Linked DNA regions of Homo sapiens: region 1 is linked to region 2. The links come from fine-mapping of genetic effects on gene expression. A gene starts in region 2. The other region holds a variant in brackets. All regions are shown on one strand. Distances are between the middles of the regions. Region 1 overlaps MAN2B2 (mannosidase alpha class 2B member 2). Region 2 holds the start of MAN2B2 (mannosidase alpha class 2B member 2).

Region 1 (8,708 bases), 41 kb after region 2:
GTCTCAATCTGTTGCCCAGGCTGGAGTGCAGTGGTGTGATCTTGGCTCACTGCAACCTCCACCACCCAGGTTCAAGCAATTCTCCTACCTCAGCCTCCCGAGTAGCTGGGATTACAGGTGCCCACCACCATGCCCAGCTAATTTTTGTATTTTTAATAGAGACAGGGTTTCACTGTGCTGACCAGGCTGGTCTCAAACTCCTGACAGCAGGCAATCCGCCCTCCTTGGCCTCCCAAAGTGCTGCGATTACAGGTGTGAGCCACCACACCCTGCCAAAATTTTTTTTTTAATACTGATGCCTCAATTCTAATCCCAGACAGATTGATTTAGTCAGCTTTGAGGCATAGCTGCAGAGCTGAGGTTCTACCAGCCAGGGTTTAGGAAGCACCTGTGTTAACCAGGTCCTCTCTCCAGGACCTTGAACTCAGTGCTTTCCTCTGAGCCTCGGTCTTCCCATCTGTAAAACGGGAGCAATGGCAATGAGCCTTTCTGAGTGGGAAGATCAGGGATGGGACAGGAGATCACATACATCATGTGGCAAATGACAGCATTATATCAGTCAGGGTGGCTGGCGTATGCTGCAGTAACAAAGAGCCCCGAATGCCCACGGTCTTAACAGTATATATTCATTTCTCCCCCATGCTGTGCATCCAGTGGGGTTAGCAGGAAGGTTTTTCTTGCTGTGGCCACCACGCCCCCCGCTGATGGAGTTTGTATTGCAGCACGTGCTTCCTCACTCACCATGGCAAGAAAAAGCTTCTGCCGGGAAGTACTGCGTCACTTCAGCTCACTTTGCATTGGCCACAGAGGCCACGCAGCCTCCCCTGACTTCAAAGGGGGCAGGGTAGGAGAGACTGGAGTATTTGAGGACATGCCCCAATATGCCCACAACAGTGGACGAGGATGGAAACATTGCAGCTGGTGTCATGGTGGGCAGCCTTACAGTCGGCCAGACCTGGGTGGGAATCCTCCCTCTGCCGCGCACCAGCTGTATGCCTTGGGCACGTGACTGCCCCTCTCTGAGCCTTGGTTTCCTTGTCGAGTGGGGGCCATGTCAGCTGTCTCACATGGAGTCTATTAGTCTGTTCTCATGCTGCTCATAAAGACATACCCGAGACTGGGTAGTTTATGAAGAAAAAAGGTTTAATGGACTCACAGTTCCACCTGGATAGGGAGGCCTCACAATCATGGCAGAAGGCAAATGAGGAGCAAAGTCACGTCTTACATGGTGGCAGGCAAGAGAGCGTGTGCAGGGGAACTGCCCTTTACAAAATCATCAGGTCTCATGAGACTTATTCACTATCACAAGAACAGCACAGGAAAGACTCACCCCCATGATTCAATTACCTCCCACCAGGTCCCTCCCACAACATGTGGACATTATGGGAGCTACAATTCACGATGAGATTTGGTTGGGGACACAGCCAAACCATATCGAGGAGGTTACAGATAGGAAATGGAGCTGAGTGTGTAAAGCAGCGGGTATAGACCAGGGACATTGGGGTTGGTTGATGAGGGTCTTCACTGCCACCTTCCTTCTGTCCCCAAAGGCCATCGAGGGGAAGCCCAGGCTGACCTCCGCCGTGTCCTGCTGCGGCTCTACCACCTATATGAAGTGGGCGAGGACCCAGTCCTGTCTCAGCCAGTGACAGTGAATCTGGAGGTGAACTTCCCCACCCCCATCCAGACCATAAGCCAGGGAAGCAAACCCTAGATGAAGCCCCAAGAAACTGCCTTGGCAAAGAGATCCACGAGGGCTTCCTCCCAAATGGACGCTGGTATGGGCCCCACCCCGCCCTTCTTCATGGTCTTCTGGGTTTGTCAGGTATTACAACTGGCCTGGTTTTTTAGGGTTTTTTGTGTATATGTGAGACAGGATCTCACTCTGTTGCCCAGTCTGGGGTGCAGTGGCACAATCTCAGCTCACTGCAACCTCTGCCTCCCTGGCTCAAGTGATCCTCCCACCTCAACCTCCCAAGTAACTGGGATCACAGGGGCGCGCCACCACGATGGCTAAGTTTTTTTTTTTTTTTTTGAGACCGAGTTTCGCTCTCGTCCCCCAGGCTGGAGTGCAATGGTGCGCTCTCAGCTGGCTGCAACCTCCATCTCCCAGGTTCAAGTGATTCTCCTGCCTCAGCCTCCCGAGTAGCTGGGATTACAGGCATGTGCCACCACGCCCGGCTAATTTTTTTGTACTTTTAGTAGAGACAGGGTTTCTCCATGTTGGTCAGGCTGGTCACGAACCCCTGACTTCAGGTGATCCACCTGCCTCGGCCTCGCAAAGTGCTGGGATTACAGGCGTGAGCCACCAAGCCTGGCCTAGTTTTTTTATTTTTAGTAGAGACACGGTCTTGCTGTGTTGCTCAGGCTGGTCTCGAACGTCTGGCCTCAAGCAATCTGCCTGTCTTAGCCTCCTGAAGTGCTGGGATTACAGGCGTGAGTGGCCTGTATTTTCTTTCTTATTTATTCTGTGGTAAAACTTTTAAAACACAGACAACATCTGTGTAATCCAAAAACAAAACAGATTCCCCATAGAGTTGCTTTGAAAGGTGACTTAGAGTCAGACAATCCAGGGTCCACACCCAGGCCCCTCTACGGGGGCATCTCCGGCACCCCATGCCTCTGGGCCTCAGTTTCCCCCCATGTAAAATGGGGAGAGGTGAGAGTTCTTTGCCCAGAAGGTTGCTGAGAGGCCCTGGCACTAAGGGGCCTCGTGCAGTGTCAGGGCCCCCAGGCCTCGTCCCCTTCCAGGTTCCCCTCTTGGCTGATGTTGCCCTCTCAGCTCTACTATCAGGCGAGGCTTCCGCCACCTGGCCTGCCCACGCTCCCTCCCCAGAAGGCATGACCTGAGCCGCCTCATTTCTTTCCCAGTTTGCATTCTTTCTATTTCATTTCCTGCTCATGGAGAATTTCTGTGAATCTCTGTGTTTCTGCCTTGGGCCTCCTTCGACATCTGAGTCTTCAGGGGAATCCAGAGAAGCCCCAGTACCTTTTCGCCATGATGTCTTACTGGGCCACCCACCTCCTCTTTCATGATCCTCGCCACGGAGGATCCTTTCCTCACGGTCCCTGGCCTGCCTGAGAGCAGGTCTAGGCCATGGCGGGTACCAGTGCCCAGCACAGGGCCAGCCTGCCCTGGGAAGCAAGGAGGCCAGCGTGGGACCTGGAAGTTGGTCATCTGATGCTCCCCCGTTTCACAGATGGAAGCACCAAGGCCCTGAGACAAGGAGACGGTTGGGATGGACACCATGACTCCCTGCCCAACGTGGACGGTGGTGGGGTGGAAAGACCATTGAGTTAGGAACGCAGTGAGTTTGGCTGCAAGTCACAAAACACCTAACAGATGTGCTTAGAACAGAGGACAGAGTGTTTTCTCACCGAACAGGCATGTCCGATGGACCCCAAGCGCTGTCACCGTGGGCCCGATCACTGTCATCTTCCCGCCATCGCCGGCAGACTGGCTTTTGTCTTTTGCCGTCTGCTTGTTTGCGGTCACAAGATGGCACAGGCCTCCCTCATGAGCAAATTTCAAGGCAGGGTAGGGCTCAGCAGTAGTGGCCAGAAAGGCCTTGCCCTAGCGTGGCTCTCTCCCTCCGTCAGCACACAGAAGCTTCTCCAAGAGCCACCCCCAGCCCTCCTGCTCCACAGACTTTTCCAGACCCCTAAGGGCCTCCTGCCTCCCCTAGGTGTAAGGGAGGCTGGGACAAGGCCTATTGGGAAAGGGGGATGGGGTAACTGTGGCTGGCTTCCTCCCTGGACTGGGCACGGGGCCACCTGAGCAATGTGGGGAGAGGAGAACTCCGCGGTGGGGTGGGCAGCTCAAAATGCCACACCTCCCGGGCTGCTCCTCCAGCTCGGCCACCTGGTAAAGCATGCACCTCCCGCTTCAGTGTCCTCATCTGTAAAGTACACGGCCAGTCCTGTCCTCGCAGATGTGCTGTGAGAAGCAGATGAGGGAGCTGTGTCAGGCACCAGGGGAGGACCTGGGCTCCTGAGGACACCGAGTTCGTGGTGTGTCTGCCCTGCTGCTGTCTTGGTTCTCTGCTCAGCTCTGGAACTTGGTGCAGCTCACTCTCCCTCTGCTCCTCTCCCTGCAGGCTGTGCTGCAGGCGCTGGGGTCCGTGGTGGCAGTGGAGGAGCGCTCGCTCACAGGGACCTGGGATTTGAGCATGCTGCACCGCTGGAGCTGGAGGACGGGGCCTGGCCGCCACAGAGGTTTGGGGACCCCCGCTTCAGCTCCCTACCCAGGACTCCCAGCCAGGCTCAGCAGCTGGTCAGACCCGGTGCACATCCAACCATCTGCCTGTCCCGGCCTGTGCGACCTTGCGAGGCTGCTTTCCTACTCTGAACCCGCAGCCCTCCCAAATCTACTACAGTCGGTTAAGAAAGGCTTTGGGTTAGTCTCTGCCTGCCAGGGCTCCACACAGGCGTGTGTGTGCACTTGTACGTGTGCACACGCAGACCACACGCCCTGCCTGTGCCCTGGGTGACAGCTAGGGGCCCAGGGGCTTCTGCCCACCTTGGCCCTGCTGACCTCAGCCCATCAGCCGGTCCCTGCCTCATACGACATGTGCCACCGTGAG[C/A]TCCTGCACTACAGGCAGCTTCCAGGCTCCACTCCCTGTCCGCACCATGCCCTCTGCCTGGGACGCACAGGTCCCATTCACTCTGGCCAGCACCTGCTCAAGCTCCCCAGGATGCCTCCCCAGAGTCACCAACCAGGCCAAGTGCCTCCTCCACTCTCCTGGCCCCAGGGGTTTCTTCTGTCCTGTGCAGCTCGTTGTCCACTACACACAGCATGGTGGCGGGTGCATGGTGCACGCTCAGTTGGTGGTGGGAGGAAGGAAGGGACGGAGGGAGGGAGGGAGGGAAGATGATGTTGGTTGGAAAGAAGGAAGGAAGATGGATGAGTGATAGATAAGTGGACGGCTCCCTCCCAAGATCGAAGCCCAACCCCAGGGCATGCCTTCAGGGGAGCCTGGTGAGGCAAGGGCAGACTCACCAGATGGTCTCAGAAAGCTCTTGGGCTTTGAGGGCAACACCCATGAGGAATTGAGGCCACTAGGGCCAGGACCAACCTATGAATTGCCCTCAGGGTGGGCAGAAACGCCAAGAGGCCCACAGGAGTCCTGGCAGAAGGGGATGCCATAGGCCGTTGCCACGGTGGGAGCCACAGCAGACTGTAGCCAGGTGCAGTGTGGTGAGAAGGAGGCTGGGAGCCACAGCAGATTGTAGACAGGTGCAGGAGGGTGAGAGGGAGGCTGGGAGCCACAGCAGACTGTAGACAGGTGCAGGGGGTGAGAGGGAGGCTGGGAGGAGGCATCCCAGGCCACACTGGACAGATCACCTCTGTTCCCCTAGGTGACACCACCTCTCCCTCGAGGCCACCAGGAGGCCCCATCATCACCGTCCACCCAAAGGAAATCCGGACGTTCTTTATTCACTTTCAACAGCAGTGAGCCCTGGGCAGATGCCCCGGCCCCAGGGCTTCCCCCAGGAACTCCATGTAACAGAACAGACCCAGGACAGGGAAAAGCAGTGCGGAGGGATGGGACTGGGGAGTCAGCTGCTCATCTGCAGGCTAATGGCAGGAAATGGTCATATTTGGGGTTTTTCCCTAATTTTTTTAAACAAAAATTACATTACAAGATCCAGGTTCTTCCCCCCCACACTCAATCAAGCCAGCCCTCTCCTCTTCTGTCACGTAAAGGATATTTGGCACACTCATGCGTCATTCATTCACAAAACACAAACCCAGGACTTTCTGCCTAAGGCAGAGCACAAGACTCACAGCAGCACCGAAGCGCATCTGCCGTCCGGGCCCTGCCAGGCTTGCCAGGCTGCCAGTGGTAACTGTGGACCTACTGCGTGCCACGTGTTTTCATAGACTCATCCCATGCTGGCAACAGCCCTGCAAGGGGCTTGGCTCTGCCACAGGGCAGGAGAGGAAGTTGTAGCGCCTAGCGAGAGTTCCAGCCCCAGACGCCCACCTGTGCCTCAGGGCACCGCCTGCCGAGCAGAGAAGGCACAGCAGCCGTCAGAGTCCATGAGAGGTGAAACCACACAGCAGGGATGTCCAATATCAGAACTATTAATATCAATAAAAGTATAACCTTCCCAGGTCTATGCCCAAGAGAATTGAAAACATCCATCCACACAATACCTGTGCTCCCGCGTTCATAGCAGCATTACTCAAAAGTCAAACGGTAGCAACAACCCAAATGTCCATCCACAGATGAATTAAGACATGAAGTGTGTTCTGTCCATACAATGGAATATTATTTGGCCATAAAAAGGAAGGAAATTCTGACGCATGCCACAGCCTGAGTGAATCCTACAAATATTACGCTAAGTGAAAGAAGCCAATCACGAGTTTATGTGAAATGTCCAGAATAGGCAAATCTGTGTATCAGAGACAAAGCACATTGGTGGTTGCCAGGTACTGGAGGAAGAGAGAAGAGGCATGACAGCTAACAGGGACGGGCTTTCTTTGGAAGATGATGAAATTGTGGAATGATGGTTGCACAACTTTGTGAATATACTAGAAACCAATGAATTAAAAACTTTGGAAGATGAATTTTATGGTCTGTGAATTATATCTCAATTTTAAAACTTTTTTTTTTTTTTCCCGAGACAGAGTCTCACTCTGTCGCCCAGGCTGGAGTGCAGTGTCAAGATCTCAGCTCACTGCGACCTGCACCTCCTGGGTTCAAGCAATTCTCCAGCCTCTGCCTCCCGAGTAGCTGCTACTAGAGATGCACCACTGCGTCAGCTAATTTTTGTATTTTTAGTAGAGACGGGGATTCACCATGTTGGCCAGGCTGATCTGGAACTCCTGACCTCAGGTGATCTGCCTGCCCCGGCCTCCCAAAGTGCCAGGATTACAGGCGTGAGCCAATGTGCCCGGCCTAAACCGTTTTAAAGAGTAAACTGTAAGATGTAGGAAATTATTTGGTACTCTAGGGCTGAAGGAAAGTACCCAGAAAGGACCAGCTTGGAAGGAGTCAGACCTCTGGACAACGTGCAGTTTGGCCACCAGACAGCAAAGACAGTCTCTGGTTTGGCCAGGCAGGAGCTGGGCTGGAGTTGCTGACCAAGCAATAGGCCACCCCTGTGAGGTGGGGTCAGGTGAGCAGCCACCAGAGGCATGGATGTGCAGTGGGAGGTTGAGGCACAAGGAGTGAGGCAGGAGCCCTTTAGAGCATGTGGGCTGCATGAGGCTTGGTTTCTGTGTCAAGAAGACTATGGAGGCTGGGCAGTGGTTCATGCCTTAATCCCAGCACTTTGGGAGGCCAAAGCAACCGGATCACTGGTGGTCAGTAGTTCAAGACCAGGCTGGCCAACATGGTGAAACCCCATCTCTACTAAAAATACAAAGTTAACCGGGTGTGGTGGTGTGCGCCTGTAGTCCCAGCTACTCGGGAGGCTGAGGCAGGAGAATCAATCACTTGAACCTGGGAGGCGGAGGAGACCTCCGCCTCTGCACTCCAGCCTGGGTGACAAGAGTGAGACTCCGTCTCAAAAAAAAAAAAAAAAGGAAGACTACGGAGGCCAGGCGTGGTGGTTCATGCCTGAAATTCCAACACGCTGGGAGCCCTAGGCAGAAGGATCGCTTGAGCCCAGGTGTTCCAGACCAGCCTCGGCAATATAGTGAGACCCCATCTCTACAAAAACTATTCTTTAGACGAGCGTGGTGGTGTGCACCAGTGGTCCCAGCTACTCTGGGGGCTGAGGTGGGAGGCTCACTTGAGCCCAGGAGGTCGAGGCTTCAGTGAGCCATGATCATGCCACTAACTCCAACCGGGGTAATAGAGCAAGACCCTGTCTCAGAAAAAAATAAAGAAGACTATGGAAATGTTATCCCCAGCGCAGCCAGGCTGTAGAAAAATCATGTGCACTGAAAGTACCATCACCCATGCTGACCATCCCCGTCCAGAACAGAAACAGCAAGAGAGCCACTTCCCCCTGCGGTCCCTCCAGCACCCAGCACCCTCAACTGGGAAGAGTGAGAAGAATATAGATGACAGGGGAAAACCCACCCACAATAGACAGAATATTGGCTAAAATCTAACATCCATTTGTTGCTTTGTTGTTATTTCATTTCATTTTACTTTTTTAGACACAGGGTCTCGCTCTGTCACCCAGGTGGGAGTGCAGTGGCACTATCATAGCTCACTGGAACCTCTTAACTCCTGGGCTCAAGTAGTCCTCCCATCCCACCCTCCTGAGTAGCTGGGACTACAAGCATGAGTCACTACACCCAACTAATTTTTAAAATGTTTGTGGAGACGCAGTCTCACTATGTTGCCCAAGCTGGTCTTGAACTCCTGAGCTCAAGCGATCCTCCCACCTAGGCCTCCCAAAGTGCTGGGATTACAGGCTCAAGCCACTGTGAATGGCCTGTTTTTTGTTGTTGTTGTTTGTTTTTTTTTTTTTTTTTTTTTTTTTTTTACAAACCACCACCACCAAACTCCCAATAAACTACGTTGCTCACTGACAATCCCCAACAGGTTTATTGCGGAACTTGACAGGATGATTCTGAAGTGCACTGGGGCTAGGTACAGTGGTTCGTGCCTGTAATCCCAGCACTTTGGGAGGCCAAGGTGGGTGGATCACTAGAGGCCAGGAGTTCGAGACCAGGCTGGCCAACATAGTGAAACCCCCTCTCTAAAAAAATACAAAAATTAGCCAGGCTTAGTGGCAGACGACTG
Region 2 (16,004 bases):
TGCCACCCACATGGGTGTCCCTCAGGACTCTTTCACCTGATGTAGTCAGCAAATAGGCAAGTGAGCAGCTATGGCTCAAGAAGGGAATGGTCACCAGGGGCTCATCCTCGTTGGTGAGGATCTGGGGCAACCCACCAGGTAAGCTATCTAGTCCAGCATGGGTCTAGCTGAGGGTGAAAGGGATCTGAATGAATAATCCAGGAGGGGGTTGTGAGTATCACCTTCAAGCCTGAGACTAGCTGCAGCAAGAGCTCACGCAAGAGCCTTGAGGAAAGTACAAATGAAACCCTACACAGCTGTGATACAGTGGGCAGGAGAGAAAATGACATGAGGTCTCACATGTTGTTGTAGTCAGATGGGGGGCTGGAGCTGAAACAGCATGGTGATCTTGAGCTGCTCCCTGTGGTCTGCCCCATGTGGGCTGGTTGGGCTTCCTCACAGCATGGTGGCCTCAGGGTAGTTGGACTGCTGACAGGGCAACTCAGGCCTCCAGGCACGAGTGCTCCAGTGAACATGGATGTCATGGAAGTCACACAGTACAACTTTCACTACATTCTCTTTGTAACAAGTGTGTCACAAGCCCGCCCATGGGCCAGGCACAGTGGCTTATGCATGTAATCCCAACACTTTCGGAGAATCCCTTGAGGCTAGGAGTTTGAGACCAGCCTGGGCAACATAGAGAGATCTTGTCTACAAAAAAGAAAAGAAAAATTAGTTGGGCATGGTGGCATACACCTATAATTTCAGCACTTTGTGAGATGGTGGTGGGAGGATGCCTCGAGCCCAGGAGTTCAAGATCAGCCTGGGCAACATAACGGGATATTATATCTAAAAAAAAAAGAAAAAAAAAAGTTTTCATTAGCCAGGCATGATGGCACATACCTGTGGTCTCAGCTACTCAGGAGGCTGAAACAGGGGGATCACGTGAGCCTAGGAGTTTGAGGCTGAAGTAAGTTAGGAGTCCACCACTGCACTCTGGCCTGGGCAACAGAGCAAGACTCTATCTCTAAAAAACACAAAAATTAATAAAATAAAAAACAATAAATAAACAAGATTCAATGAGAGGAGACATAGACCCTATCTCCTAATAGGAAGAATGTCAAGATCATATTGTAAATCAAAAATAAAATTATAAGCCCCAGCTGAGAGAATGGACCCCCTGTCGGCCAAGGGGACCCCAAAGAAACCCAAAAAACTAGTTCAGGCCATGATGGGAAGTGGGAGGTCACACATGCCTCATCATAGCCTCCTCCCTTTAAGTTTCGGCACAGCTGACCAGCATTAACATTAACATAGAGATCCTCCTAAGACTGACAGAACACTTTTGTAGCAATCAGATACCCGATTCTAACATGACTCTGGTATAGCAACACACGACAGAGAGCAGGCCCTAAAGGAAATCAAAGTATTTTACCCCAAAATAAATTTTCTTTGACATATTTTGAAATGGACTTGCAAAGTCATCTCTTGTGGGGGAAACTTGCATTCTGTAGAGAATCTCCTTACTTACTAGCTCTTTTCCAGAGAGTCTGATACCTTTTAAGGTCCCCAGAGACATGCACATCTATTCTCTCTGAAGCCTGCTAACTGGAGGCTTCATCTATGTAACAAGAACCTTAGCTTCCACATCCCCATTGTCTTAACTCAAGCATTTCTTTCTGCCGACTCCAACTCTTCAGGTAAAGCTTAACTCTTTTAACCAATTGCCAATCAGGAAATCTTTGAATCCTCCTCTGACCTGGAAGCACCACCCACCCACTTCAAGATGTCCCACCTTTCTGGGCCAAACCAATGTATACTTTACATATATTGATTCATGTCTTTGCCTGTAACTTCTGTCCCCATAAAATGTATAAAGCTATAGCCCAACCACCTTGGGCACCTGTTCTCAGGACCTCCTGAGGCTGTGTCACAGGCCATGGTCACTCCTATTTGGCTTAGAATAAACGTTCTGAGATATTTTAGAGTGTGGCTTTTCTCGTCAACCAAATTCTACAAAGAGCTTGGGGGGTGGGTAATGTTGTGGAGCCCATCTTTGGCAGATACAGTCTGCCAAAGATTGTGACACTGCCTTATCGATAAACTCAGTGGCTTAACACAATTAAAGCTTATTTCTCCCTCTTGTCACAGCTCTTTGGGTTCCTCATGGTTCCATGTGGTTCTTCAGAGCCTCCATTGGTGGCTCTAACCTCCCTGAGGTCCTCGGAGTGCCCTCCACTGGAGCAGTGGGTGAGTAAGAGAGCAGGGCTCACCCACAGGAGGTTGTTAGGGGCCAGCCTGGAAGAGGAGCACAGTGCCCGCCCCCACCCATCCCATTGACTAGCACTTAGCCACGTGGCCGCACCTGGTTGCAGAGGCTGGAGAGTGGAGCCCAGCTGTGAGCCTGGCCGGTCATGGGGACATGTGTTAGTGAGTACTGTCCACGTCAGGCTCAGACCATCTGACCTGAGGCTATGGGGATGCAGGGGTCCCCAGGGGGTGGACAGGACAGAAGGAGGAGGGAGACCTGCTTGGAGAACCTGTTCTCAGTTTCCATTTGTTACATAATGGACAAGAGGACCAGCACTTTTGCTCAGAGCTGCAGCTCTGGTTCCGCTAGGAAATGCCAGGCAGGGGCACAGCCAAGTGGTTCTCAGACAGTAAACCCCAAGCCACAGACCCTTGCTTTCTTGGGCAGGGAGTAGTGGACAGGGCTGACTCCAGGCAACAGTCCCAAACAGGCTGCACCAATGTGACCGCACCTCCCCTGAGTGCAGGCAAGGGGTGCTGTGCTCACGCTCTCAGCCTGGGTGCATCCTTACTTTGTTCACAGCTCCTCTATCGGACCCATTTCACTGAGGCTCAGCGAGGTTACCTATGTCGCCCCAGGTCACCATCCAGTAACCCAGAAAGCTTCTCTTGGCTCCTCCACTAACTGCGTGATCTTGGACAAGTCAGTTACTGTCTCTGAAAGCCAGTTCTCCTCCTTAAAATGGAGACAGTTGAGCCAGGCATGCTGGTTTATGCCTGTAATCCCAGCACTTTGAGAGGCGGAGGCAGGAGGATCGCTTGAGCTCAGGAGTTTGGGACCAGCCTGGGCAACATAGTGAGGCCCCCATCTCTATAAATTTTTTTTTTAATTAGCTGGGTGTGGCAGTGTGCCCCTGTGGTCCCAGCTACTCAGGAGGCTGAGGTGGGAGGATCACTTGGGCCCGGGAGGTCAAGGCTGCAGTGAGCCCTGATCGCGCCACTGCACTCCGGCCTGGGAGACAGAGTGAGATCCTGTCCAAAAAAAAAAAAAGGAGACAGTCCCATAACAAGCCCCCCATGGCGCCGCCCAGATGGGGTTTCGACGCCAGGGAGAGGAGGGAAAGGGTTATCAGGGAAGGTTCCTGGTGGCAGAGCTCACAGGGTCCGTGCTGAGCCGAATTTTGCACGGTAGCCTCAGAGTCCCGGAGCCGAGTCCAGAGGGCGGGATGCAGGTATTGCGAAGAGGCACACGCTCCGAGAGGAACCACCAGAGCGTGGGCTTTGGGCGAGGAGGGGTCTCCTCTGGTTGGGGGAGATCTGGCAGGCTTGGGGGAGATGGGGCTGAAAGGATGGACAGGGAGGGAAGGCCAGAAAGCTGGAGACGGGGATGGAGAGCTAAACCGCAAAGAGCAGGCGCCCTGCCCCGCTGAGGGCCCCGCGCCTCCAGCTCCTCCTTCCCGAGCTTCCCGGGGTCGGCGTCCAGCCGGCAACCAATGGGCCCCGCCCCCGCCCGCAGCCAATGGGCCGCGTCCCCGCCCGCGCGGCCGCCCCGCCCCTCGCGGACCCGGAAGTGGGCCTGGCACCTTCCCGGCCTGCCGCAGGGATGGGGCAGCTGTGCTGGCTGCCGCTGCTGGCACCGCTCCTGTTGCTGCGACCGCCAGGGGTCCAGTCCGCCGGCCCCATCCGGGCCTTCGTGGTGCCCCACAGCCACATGGACGTGGGCTGGGTCTACACTGTGCAGGTAGGTGCCGACCACGCCCCGCGCGCCCCTGAGGCTGCAGCTTCCCTCTCCCCGCGGGATCTGAGTGTGGGTTTGCGTCCCGGGGCCCGATGCCGGCGCAGAAGGAGGCTCAGTGGGTTCAGGACCCCACGCTGCCATTGACTGGTTGCGTCGCTAACTTCGGGCCAGTCACTTCCTGCCTCTGAACCCCCATTTCCCCTTCTGGAGGGTGGTGCAGATTGGAGGGACCCCTGCATTCCCGGCTGGGGAGGGGCTTGGGGGTTGACAGTGGTAACCCATTTTCCAGGGAAGCCTGGAGCAGGAGAGGGTGGGGCTGGCTTCAGAGCAGGTGGATGTCAGGTGCCCGCTGGGAAGGGGCCGGGCTGGTCCCCTGCGGGGCTGAATATTGGAGGCCAGCTCAGCGTCCTCCGCCCCCCAGGACAGGGGTGAAGGTGGACCTGTGGTCACCTCCTGGTTCTGCTCAGGACCTTGGGCGAGGGGCTTTGGTCCCTAAGCCTCAGTTTCCCCATCTGTAAAGGGTAGGGGAAGCATGCCCACTACAGCCAGTTTCCAGAGGAGAAAACCGAGGCCCAGAGAGGGTTGCTGCCTTGCCCAAGGTCGCTCGGGAATAACCCTCATGCCTCCTGACTCCCTGCTCGGTGCTCCTTCCATTCATGTAAGCACTCTGTGGGCACCCTGTGTGCAGGGCCCTCGGGACTCGGATGGGAACACACTACAGCTGTGGTCCTTGGAGCTCCCAGCCTTGGGGAGGCAGACGCCTAGACGCCAGGGACAGCCTGGGGAGCTCTTCCTCTCAGCACCAGCTTTCCTCATTTCAGCCCCAGCAGGCCCCTTTGGGGTCACTGGACCACACCCCGACTGAGGCCTAAGACTTTCCTGTGCTGCCCCTCAATGGCACACTCAGGGCCCAGCCCCCCAAATTGCACACTCAAGGCCCAGCTTGCTCACCCCTCTGAGAAACTGTCCCTGACCCCTGGGCTGGGAGGGCACCTGTCTCTGCCCATGTAGGGTGTCTGTTTCCCCGTCCCTCTCCCCCAGGAGAGCACGATCCCATCCAGTGGGGAGAGCCTGGTATGGAGCGAGTGCCTAATAGCTGTGTGGGGGGTGAGCAGCAGGGAAGGAAGGGCAGAGCCCCCAACCCCATGCAGACACACCTGGCGAATGGCAGGGGCCCCAGGGACACTTGGTCTTGTTGGACCGGGGCTGGCATGATGCTGTCCCCTCCCCAGGAAAGCATGCGGGCGTACGCCGCCAATGTCTACACCTCAGTGGTGGAAGAGCTGGCCCGCGGCCAGCAGCGCCGGTTCATCGCTGTGGAGCAGGAGTTTTTCCGGCTGTGGTGGGATGGCGTCGCCTCGGACCAGCAGAAATACCAGGTAATGAGGTCACCAGGTGACACAGTTGGCCCAGTATCCTGGCAAAGACCCAGGTGGAAAACTCAATGGGGCAGTTCTAGCCAGGGCCAGGGCCAGGCTGGCATAAACCACAGGGCCAAAACCCCACCGGGCTATTCACAGCCTTGTTTAGATCAAGGTTCACGGTGAGTTCCATGCCTGGGAGAGATTGCTTTCAATTTAATCCTGAATTTCTGTCTATTCTTGAAAAAACTGCCAGCTCTGGCAACCCAGCTGTGCACTTCCGTGCCAGCTGGCACTAAGTCAGCAGTGCCCCCTGACACCAGGCATCCCAGGTGTCCCCAAGCCCTCACCCTCTTCTCTCATTTGTGTTATCTGCCTGGCCCCCGGGCCCAGGGTCTGGTGACCCTTGATGAGGGTGCGATAGTCCCTGTGGTTTGAGGGTAGGCAGCAGGTTGCTTCATACAGCATGGAGAGTCAGAGTCCCCGCTGCACAGTGAGGCAGCCTGGGTCCCATCCTGCTCCCGCACCAGGGGACACGACTAGCCCCTGCGAGCCACAGATTCCACTTCTATTAAACGGGGGTGACCGCCCCATTGCAGAAAAGTCATGCCAAGAATGAAGCCCTGGCGTGAGCACCCAGGACGATACTCGGGGGTTCTTAGTTTCCTCCCAGGTATCCACCTGCCTTCAGAATAGTTGCTGAACATAAAGTTCAGGGACGCCAAGTGACTTGCTCAAGGGAGTGAAGCGGAGAAGGGAGAGCAGGGCGTCCACCAGGCCCCGCCAGAGTCACGGGAAGGAGCCGGACATCCAATGGCCACTTGATGCTGCCAGATAGTGGGGTTCTTACCTCAAGTTAAAGAGACATTCCAGGTTCAGAGAGGGCACGCCACTGGCCTGCAGTCACACAGCTTGTAAGCGGCAGGTGGGATTCTGAGCCAGGCATGCCTGACTCGAGGCAGGCCTTTCCAGGATATCCTGTGAGCGTCCCATGCTTCTTCAGGTGGACCCCACCAAACCCAGTGGTCTGTCTCCTAGCCCTCAAAGAGAAGCATGGCCTGCATGGCCCAGTGAAGACCTGGACAGGAAACTTGTGGCAGAGCTCCCTGGAGGCAGGAATTGTTGCCTGCTTCATTCACTGCTGAACCCCCAGTGCCTGAACAGTGCTGGTTGTGTAGTAGGTGCTCACTTAACATTTGTTGAGTGAATGATCTACATATAGTGCACCTTAAGAAACAAACCAAAGGCACAGCCTATAAACAGCTGTGTGTACACATACTGAGGTGTGTAGTGTCTAGGGCAACAAAGGTGTTATGTGTGTAGAGACGGGGATGTTAAGCAAATAGGTTAAAAATGGTAGTGATGAGTGAACCTTGGGAAAGGATATGGGAGCTCTTTGTTCTATTCCTGAAACTTTTCTAAAGTTTAGAATTAGTTAATAAAATAAGATTTAAGAAAATCTTATATATACAAATATATATCTCAAATACCACCTGAGGGCTGCATGATTTCTAGGTGGTGGGAACACAGTGTGGACCAGGACAGACAGTGCCCTGCTTTTATAGAGTAAGCAAGGGTGGGGAGTTTTATGCAGGGCGTGTGTGGCGCTGTAGGTGTGTTCCCCACAGACCCAGCCATGCTCAGGAGCCGTAACTGGCTTTTTTCTCTCTGCCTGCCCATGTCAAGGTCCGCCAGCTCCTGGAGGAAGGACGCCTGGAATTTGTCATCGGAGGCCAGGTCATGCATGACGAGGCTGTGACGCACCTTGATGACCAGATCCTGCAGCTCACAGGTTTGGCCACCCTACCCTGCACCCAGGGTCCCTCAGGACCTCCAGTGGGGCTGGGACATGGTATCAGAACCCCCAGGTTCTGAGCTCTGTCTGCCCCTCTTAGTGGGGTCGGGGACCTTAACCAGTGAAAGCAGTGATTTGCTAGTGCCATATTCATGCCTCACCAAGGAAGTTGAATGTAGGGGTTAAGAGCATGGATGCTAGAGTCAGATGGTCTCAATATATCCTGGCTCTGCCAATTCCCTCCTCTGTGACCCTGGAAAGGAATGTAACTTCAGTTTCCTCATAGATAAAATGAGTTTGATGGTAATACCTACCTCAAAGGGTTGTTGTGAGTATTAAATGGGATAATTCAAATAAAGCACTTTAGTAGGATGTGGGTTCCCTAGTAAATGCTCAGTAAGTGTTTGCTGCCTTCCATCACAATTACCACCTTCAGCACCATAATGACCATGACTACTACCATCACCACCACCACCACGATGACCATCACTACCACTACCATCACCACCACCACCACCATCACCATCACCACTACCACCATCACCACCATCACCACCACCATCACCATCACCACCACCACCACCATCACCATCACCAGCACCACCACCATCACCATCACCACTACCACCACCACCACCATCACCACCACCATCACCATCACCACCACCACCACCACCATCACCATCACCAGCACCACCACCATCACCATCACCACCACCACCACCACCATCACCACCACCACCCTTCACCACCATCACCACCACCACCATCACCACCACCATCACCATCACCACCACCATCACCACCACCACCACCATCACCACCACCACCACCACCACCATCACCATCACCACCACCATCACCATCACCACCACCACCACTACCCTTCACCATCACCACCACCACCATCACCATCACCACCACCATCACCACCACCCTTCACCATCACCACCACCCTTCACCACCACAATGACCATCACTACCACTACCATCACCACCACCATCATAACTACCATCACCACCACCCTTCACCACTGCTATGACCACCACTACCACTACCATTACTACCACTACCATCACCACCATCACCACTACCACCATCATCTTCACCACTACAATGACCATTACTACCACTACCATCACCACCACCCCCTAAACACTATCACCATGATCACCACCCATCACTGTCGCCACCACCATCACCACATCCATTACTACCATCCCCTCCACAATCATCATCACCACCACCATGACCATCTCCCTCACCATTGTGTCCACTGTCCTCAGCACCATCACCCACAGTGCCGTGGGGCACTCTACTCACCATTTACCAAATGCCTTTCACAGTGACACCCCAGCCAATCCTAATGGCGGGCTGATGGTGAGGCATGGTGATGCCCAGTTTCATTTTGCAGATGTAGAAACTGAGATCCAAAGAAATGCAGTAACTCTCTCCAGGGTAGATGGCCAGGACTTGAGTCCAGGCCTAGGGACTGAAGCTCCGAGTCCACAGTCACTCCACTACAGCATGGGCCCTGATTTCCCCATTTGTAAAACATCCAGGCAGAGAGCAATGTTGTCAAAGGATGTTTTTGGCACTCTCCCTTTTCTCATCTGTAATCTGGAGTGTTCCCCTGTCTCAGTTTCTTACTGCCTTACATCTGGACTTTGCTCAAACCCTAGACTTGCCCTTCCATGAGAAGGAGGCGTGATGGACACAGCCCTACAGACAGAGCTCCTCCTGTGGCCAGGAGCTCAGCCCCTGCTTGTCCCCCTGCATCCCCACAGGCCCAGAGGTAACAGGGGAGGACAGCAAGGCTCAGAGGGAGCACCTTGCCCTCAGCCGCCTGCTGTGGCTCCCTGACTCCAGAGCCCCTGCTCTTTCACTCCCCCATGTGAAGTGTGGGCAAGGGATCTATCCCAACAGACTTCCCCCACACCCCTTCACAAGCCCACTGCCAGGGAATGTGTGACACTGTAGGCGTGTCCCCCACCTGCCTCCTGCCCCGTGCCAGCGAGGAGGCTCTGGGGCTGTTTCTCACCTGTGCCATTTCACGCAGTGCTCCCCCTCATTCTCCACCCTCCTCCTCAAGATGCAGCTGAGAAGCCCCTCCCGCAGGAAATCTCTGAGTCTCTGCAGTTCTGTGTCACCTCCCCACTTAACCGCTGAACCTCAAGATGCCCCTGGCAGGGACCCCCATCTGACTCATCTCAGCACCCAGCATAGGGTCTGGCCCAGACCACTGCTTACTGGGCAAGGCTGGGCAAGGGGTGGGCGCTGAACTGCCCTGCCCTGAGGGTACCCACCACTGGGGTACCTCGCCTCTGGCCTCAGCCCACCGTGCCTAAGTGCTGATACCCCAGCGCTGACCCTGCAGGTCTGACCTGGCAACTGGAAGCCTCAGGGAAGCTGAGGCTGTGTCGCTCTGGGGCAGGAAGAGCCTCCAGAGACACAAGAGACAGCGGCTGTTGTGAGGCTCCATTTCCAAACCTGTCCAAGCTCATGGGGCCCTCAGGGTACAGACATGTGGGTTTCTTTCATGATAACCACCTTGTTCTAGGTACAAGATGTACACGTATTTTTTTTTCAGTCCTCAGGGCAATCTGGTAGATGGGTAATCTTACAAATGCTTATTTGTAGAGAAGTTTGAGGCTCAAATGCTATCCAAATGTGCCCACCACCAGCTAAGTGATGGGACCCAGATCCAACCCTAGCCCGGCCGAGTCAGGAAGGTTACTTGTGGCTGAGCCCCTCTCACTGGCGGCTGAGCCAAGCCCTTTCCCATCTGCTATCTCTTAGTTGCCTCAGAACAGCCTGGTAGCAAGTGGTACTGTTCACAGCCCCATTTGACAGATGAGGAAACTGAGGTACTGAGAGATGCGGGATTTATATATATGCAGTAGGTAACAGAACTGGCGCTCAAGCCCATGTGTGCCTGGCCTGGGCTCTTTCCTTAACTTGTAGTCCCTAGGGCGGGGGCAGAGTGTGTGTATCAGACCACCCATCTCAGATGTCCCAGGCATTCTGGCTGTGAATTATGTCCACATTGGGCTGGTTTTCTCAGATATGTTGGGGTAAGAGGGGCTGGATCACCCCTCACTGCTTCCGGGCCCTTTATCCTCCATCTCACCTTGGTGGAGCCCCTGCCTCGAGGCAGGCCCTGGACAGCAAAGGAAGACAGGAGCAGGCTGGTGCAGCCTCTAGACCTCTGACCTTCTTCTTCGGGTATCTAGGGTGCCAAAGCATCTCCTCAACCAAGACCCACTCCTGGCTGCCCGCCAGGGCCTGGGGCACTGGGCCTGCCCGTAAGCTCACCTTTCCAGCCTTTACCTCCCCAACTCCTGCTCCCGGCAGTCACGCCAACACCACCTTAATTTTAGATGTGACATTTCTAGTGAGGGGAAAAGCATTTGTTCCCAGCACTGCAGTGTCAGGGAAAGGCTGGGTGTGGGCAGCGGCCCCCGGGGGTAAGAGCTTTCATGCCCCTCCCTGAGGGGACACTTTCCCAGCTGGGATGTTTAGCGGAGGCCCAGCAGAGTGGCAGGTGCCAGAGGGAAAGAACCCCTCACCCCTATCCTGAGGGGAGAGAGCCCAGCTCCCGCCTCAGAGGTGCTGAGAGGCAAAGGGTCCAGGTGAGAGTCAAGGAGACACCTTGGGCCATCCTGGATGACCACTGCTGTCCTGGCCATTCAAACCCAAGCTCTCAGCCCTGTCCCCCAACCCCACTCCCTTCCCACTGAATCCGCGATCCCTCTCCTGTGTCACAGACTCTCTTCCACCTTCTCTTGTCTCTCTGACTCCTTCCAGCAGTATTTAGTTGTTGTTGTTGCCGTTGCTGCTGTTGTTGTTGTTGTTAGACAGAGCCTCACTCTGTCACTCAGGCTGGAGTGCAGTGGCGCAATCTCGGCTCACTGCAATCTCTACCTCGCAGGTTCAAGCAATTCTTATGCCTCAGCATCCTGAGTAGCTGGGAGTACAGGCGTGCACCACCATGCCCAGCTAATTTTCATATTTTTAGTAAAGACAGGGATCTCACCATGTTGGCCAGGCTGGTCTTGAACTCCTGACCTCAAGTGATCCGCCCACCTTGGCCTCCCAAAATGCTGGGATTACAGACCTGAGCCACCAAGCCCGGCCCCCAGCAGTATTGAAAACACACTTAAATTGTCTCTCTTCAAAAAAAAATTTTTTTTAACATGGGGTCCACTGTGTTGCCCAGGCTGGTCTTGAACTCCTGACCTCAACATCATAAAGCAAGACCCTCCAGCTCAGGCTGTAATGGCATTTATTCCCACCACCCCCTCACCCCCCACCACCTCCCACTACTTCACCCTCAGCCCCTGCATCCTGGCCTCTGCCCTGCATGTGCTAGTGAGCTTGCTTGTGGCCTGGTCATTATACTGGTGAGGATACTGGTTCAGCAGCTTGAACAGAGACCAAGTGACTCCAACAAGAAGGAAGGTGTGTTTCTCTCCTGTGGAAGTCTGCAGTGCAGGCCACTCTGGTGATTGGGTGGCTCTGCTCCATGGAGTGACCCAGGGATCCACGTTGCTTCCATCTTGATGTTCAGCCATCCCCCACAGTGTTGCCTGCCTGAGTTGCAGTCTAGACTGGCTCACCCCACTGAGTTGTCCTTCCAGCAGCTAGGGGATAGGGAATGGTGGAGCCAGGGCAGGCAGCTTCCTTGTAAAAGGCGACCTAGAACCTGCCCACATCACTCCTCACATTTCCATTGGCCAGAACTTAATCATATGGCCTCCCTCAACTGCAGGGACTGCTGGGGAATAGAGTCTATTTTGCTCCCAGTCCATTGGCCAGAGTGGTGTCATGTGACCTCTACCAGTTGCAAAGGAGGCTGGGGAATGTAGTCTCTGGCTGGGAGTCCATTTGCCCTGCTAAAACCAAGAAGGAGTGTGTGGTTCTGTTACTAAAAGGAAGAAGGACAGAATGTATATCGGACGCCAATTAACAGTTTTGGTCATGAATCACCCTGAAGTCTCAGGAATGCTTTCTGCTGGACGGCCAGAAAACCTAAGTAAAGCTGTTAGTGGTGGAAGGTATCCAAGTTACCAGCAGCTAATCCGTACGGGTCTGCAGCAACCCCAGTTCTTGCCTCCTCGGAAGAAAGAATTCGACTGAGGGGCATAAGGCAGAAAAAGAGACTGAGGCATGTTTCAGAGCAGAAGTGGAAGTTTATTTAAAAAGGCTTTAAAATGAGAAAGAAAGGAAAATATGCTTGAAAGAGTCCCAAGTGGGCACGTGAAGGTCAAGTGCTGTATTGATCCTTGATCCTAGGACTTTATAGGCTGGTCCCCTTTCCCATGATTCTTCCCTTAGGCTGGGCTACCCGCACTCACAGTGCCCTCCTTACCCTTGGGAGGTGAGCACACGCACTGTGTTTAGGAAGTTGCACACATGCCCATCTGACGCTTTCTTCCCTTTTCCAGTGGAGTGTCCCTGGAAGGTCAAACTCCGCCATTTTGTCTCTTAATGCACCTGCTCGGGAAGTCACGTCTCCCTGGCACCTGCATTCAATTAACATGTTAGTGCAACAGGTGTGGACCATCAGGAAATGCCCTCTCCCTAGTGCTGGCTGCCAATTTCTCACTTCTAGAGAGGCAATGTGATAATTGCCAAACCATCACCCAACATTCCTAGTGGGTGGGGGAAGAGCCCTCCCCTGCCCCACTCATGCTTGTCTAACTACCTGTAACAAAGCGACTTGAGTCTTAAGAACATTTACTTAACAAGATGGGGATAGTTTGGGACTGGTTCTGCAGTACCTTGATATCTGTGATTCTCATGTCCTTACCCTTGTGGTCACGATATGGCTGCCATAGCTCCAGCCATCATGTTACCAGACACCACATTCAAGGCAGTAAAAGGAAGAGAGGGGGCTTTCTATACCCATAGTCTATTCTGTTGGATAAACTTAGACACACTAAAATGTTAGCATTTATTTGAACAAACAGTGATTCCTGAATCAGGAAGTACTAGACTGTGAGCAGTTCATGGCTCCACTAAGGGAATATGAGAGGGAAACGTCTATAAGGTGCTCCTGAAAGCAAGACAAAGAAAACATTTGCCTACAGTGAACAGTCCCTAGTTAGAGGTTGGTTGGCAGTTTCCGATGGGTCAAGCTTAAGTTCTCTTTTCCTGTTTCCACCAAGTTAGATTTGGGTTTGCTGACAGAGGAACTCGAGGCCTGGAGCCGGCTCAGCCTGATGGCCTCCCAGTTCATTACTTAACAATGCCCCTCCAGCTGCCAGACAGAGAGAACCAATATCTGACAGGAGGGAGTAAGCGTGCCACATTTGGCTTAGATCAACTGTGATTCGTCCCTTGAGGCTGGGCATGGTGCACCCTGAACAGAGGGAAGGTTCTGCGAGTGAAAAAGGGGTGCTGACTTGGCAGCCTTCAGCCTGCCCCCACCGGCTGCCCTGTCTGGTGCGAGGCCGTACCCTCCAGAGCTCCTGGCTCCTCTCAGTGCGGTGCTGTTGCCCACTCCCTCCTTCATCCTGCAGCTGGCACTCCCCCTGTGCTCCCCCCACCCTCTGGCTGCTCCTTCTCCATCCTCTCTGCTTACATATGCACAGCCTCCACCCACACTCCTAGTCCACGCTCCCCCTGATCCCCTCTCACCTCTGCTGTGCACCTGATGCCAGCCCCACTCCTCACCTCCCACAGTCATCCCCTGCCCTGTCTTGCTTGGCCTTGCTCATAGGTCTGACTGCTGCTCGGTCCCAGCATCCCAGGCCTCATCTGAGGCTCAGCCAGGGTCCCCAGGACTGCAAGTTCATCAGTGAAAGGCAGTTTGACTCTAGATCAGTTATGAGAGTTCTCTGAGGCACTGTTCACCAATCTTAAAGTGCAGATTATAACACCCATCTCTCAAGGTGTTAGAAAGATTATATTTGGGGCAAGGACTTGGGGAATGTTAATCAATGCCTTATACAAGTCTGGGGTTTTCTTTTTCCCTGCAGCACTGAACCCAATATCTGGTTCACTATGGTGACTCTTAAGTAATAAATGAATAAATGAATGGTTGGGTGATTCTGGCATGGAGTCCTTTGTATTCATGATCTATTTCCGTGTAGCAAATTGCCCCCAAACTTCTGAGAACAAACATTTCATATCTACAGCTCCTGTGGGTGAAGAGCTCAGGAGTGACTTAGCCAGGGGGTTCTGGCTCAGGACCTCTTGAAAAGTTGCCATCTGGGAGTCAGGTGGGGCAGTGTCATCTGAAGGCTGGACTGGGGCTGGAGGGTCTACTCCAGGCTGGCTCTCGCGGCTGTGAGAGGAAGCCTCAGTTCCTCGCCATGTGACTGGTCATGGCACAGCAGCTGGCCCCCAGAGCAGCGACCCAGGAGAGCAGGCAAGGGCAGCCACAGTAGAAGCTGTGTGCCCTTCACCTTCTCTCCTCAAGGGTACACAGGTACTTCTGCTTCACTGTGTTTGTTAGAAGTGAGTCACTGAGTCTGGCCACCCTCTAGGCCCTAAGCCTCACCTGTTGAAGACGCAGCAATAATTTATGGACATCTTTTCTTGTGGTTTTTTTTTTTTTGAGACAGAGTCTCACTCTGTCACCCAGGCTGAAGTGCAGTGGCAGGATCATGGCTCACTGCAGCCTCAACCTCCTGAGCTCAAGTGATCCTCCCACCTCCACCTCCCAAGTACCTGGGACTACAGGCATGTGCCACCACCACGCCTGGCTAATTTTTTAAATTTTGTGTGCATGTGTAGAGATGGGGTCTCACTATATTGCCCAGGCTGGTCTCAAACTCCTGGGCTCAAGCGATCCTCCCACCTCAGCCTCCCAAAGTGCCAGGATGACAGGCGTGAGCCACATTGCTGGCCTTGGACGTCTTTTGAACCACCGCACACTTAGGTTTGAAGTTCACCTTTAACCTTTTATTGTTGGTGATGTCCAAGACCTCCATAGCATCATCAAAATCAGTGCTCTATCCAAGTTCACACAAAAATCCTCACCCCTGCACGTGCTGTAACATGCAGGAACCTTAAGGACATTACGCAGAGTGAAATACGCCAGTCACAGAAGGACTGATGCTGTGTGATTCCGCTGATATCTACAGGCATCAAATTCATGCAGTCAGGGAGTAGAATGGGGGTGCTAGGGGCTGGGGGAGGGGCATAGGGAGTTAGTGTTTAATGAGGCCAAGAGCTTCAACTTGGGAAGAGGAGAACATTCTGGAAAGGGATGGTGGTGGTGGTTGTATAACAGTGTGAATGTAGTAACACTACTTAACTATACACTCACAAATTATTAAGGTGGTAAATTGTATGTTATATGTACTTCACCATGATTAAAAGTTAATAATTAACACCCTCACCTCTGCAGTTCTGCATGACCCTGCCTGGCCCAGTAGCTGGCACTGCAACCCACTGGATAGGCAGGGTCCCCTGGGGTGAGGATGGGGCCGGGAGGCACAGGCCCGCCCTCCAGGCACCAGCAGGGTGTTGCTGTCTTTGCAGAAGGACACGGGTTTCTCTATGAAACATTTGGGATCCGGCCACAGTTCTCCTGGCACGTTGACCCGTTTGGCGCCTCTGCCACGACGCCCACCCTATTTGCGCTGGCGGGCTTCAATGCCCACCTCGGCTCCCGGATCGACTACGACCTGAAGGCAGCCATGCAGGAGGCCCGGGTGAGTGGTGTGCCGCGTCTGCTGCCGCCCAGCGACCGCTCCTCCCTTCCTTCCTTGAATCAGAGCACGGTAGAAAGCTGCTGCTCTATGCCGAAGTGTTCGGAAATTCTTGGCAGCTGCATAGACCGCGGGGCTGTCCCCTAACCTTTGCTCTTGTCGCCTCCTCCACCAGGAGGGCCCCCCTCCCTGTACCCCAGCTTCTCACAGAGCTGCA

Evidence for each region.
Region 1: its variant is fine-mapped to the expression of MAN2B2 in aorta (GTEx, PIP above 0.99). The same link has a PIP of 0.9 or more in tibial artery.

The regions. Positions count from the first base shown.
Region 1 is chr4:6,615,830-6,624,537 of GRCh38, forward strand. It overlaps MAN2B2 (mannosidase alpha class 2B member 2), which reads left to right. Exons shown (of 19, transcript NM_015274.3): 17 at 1,551-1,663; 18 at 4,098-4,215; 19 at 5,359-7,533. The coding sequence ends at 5,456. Among named protein-coding and RNA genes, the nearest start is that of MRFAP1, 21 kb to the right of the region's middle. RefSeq lists a silencer at 6,621-6,814. The variant C/A (reference allele first, on the strand shown) is at 4,584.
Region 2 is chr4:6,571,379-6,587,382 of GRCh38, forward strand. MAN2B2 (mannosidase alpha class 2B member 2) reads left to right here and starts at 3,811. Exons shown (of 19, transcript NM_015274.3): 1 at 3,811-3,970; 2 at 5,200-5,346; 3 at 7,015-7,120; 4 at 15,618-15,790. The coding sequence starts at 3,833. LOC105374365 (a long non-coding RNA gene) reads left to right here. Exons shown (of 3, transcript XR_925098.3): 2 at 2,131-2,229; 3 at 2,813-2,960. RefSeq lists enhancers at 2,007-2,775, 2,776-3,543, 3,544-4,312 and a silencer at 3,601-4,060.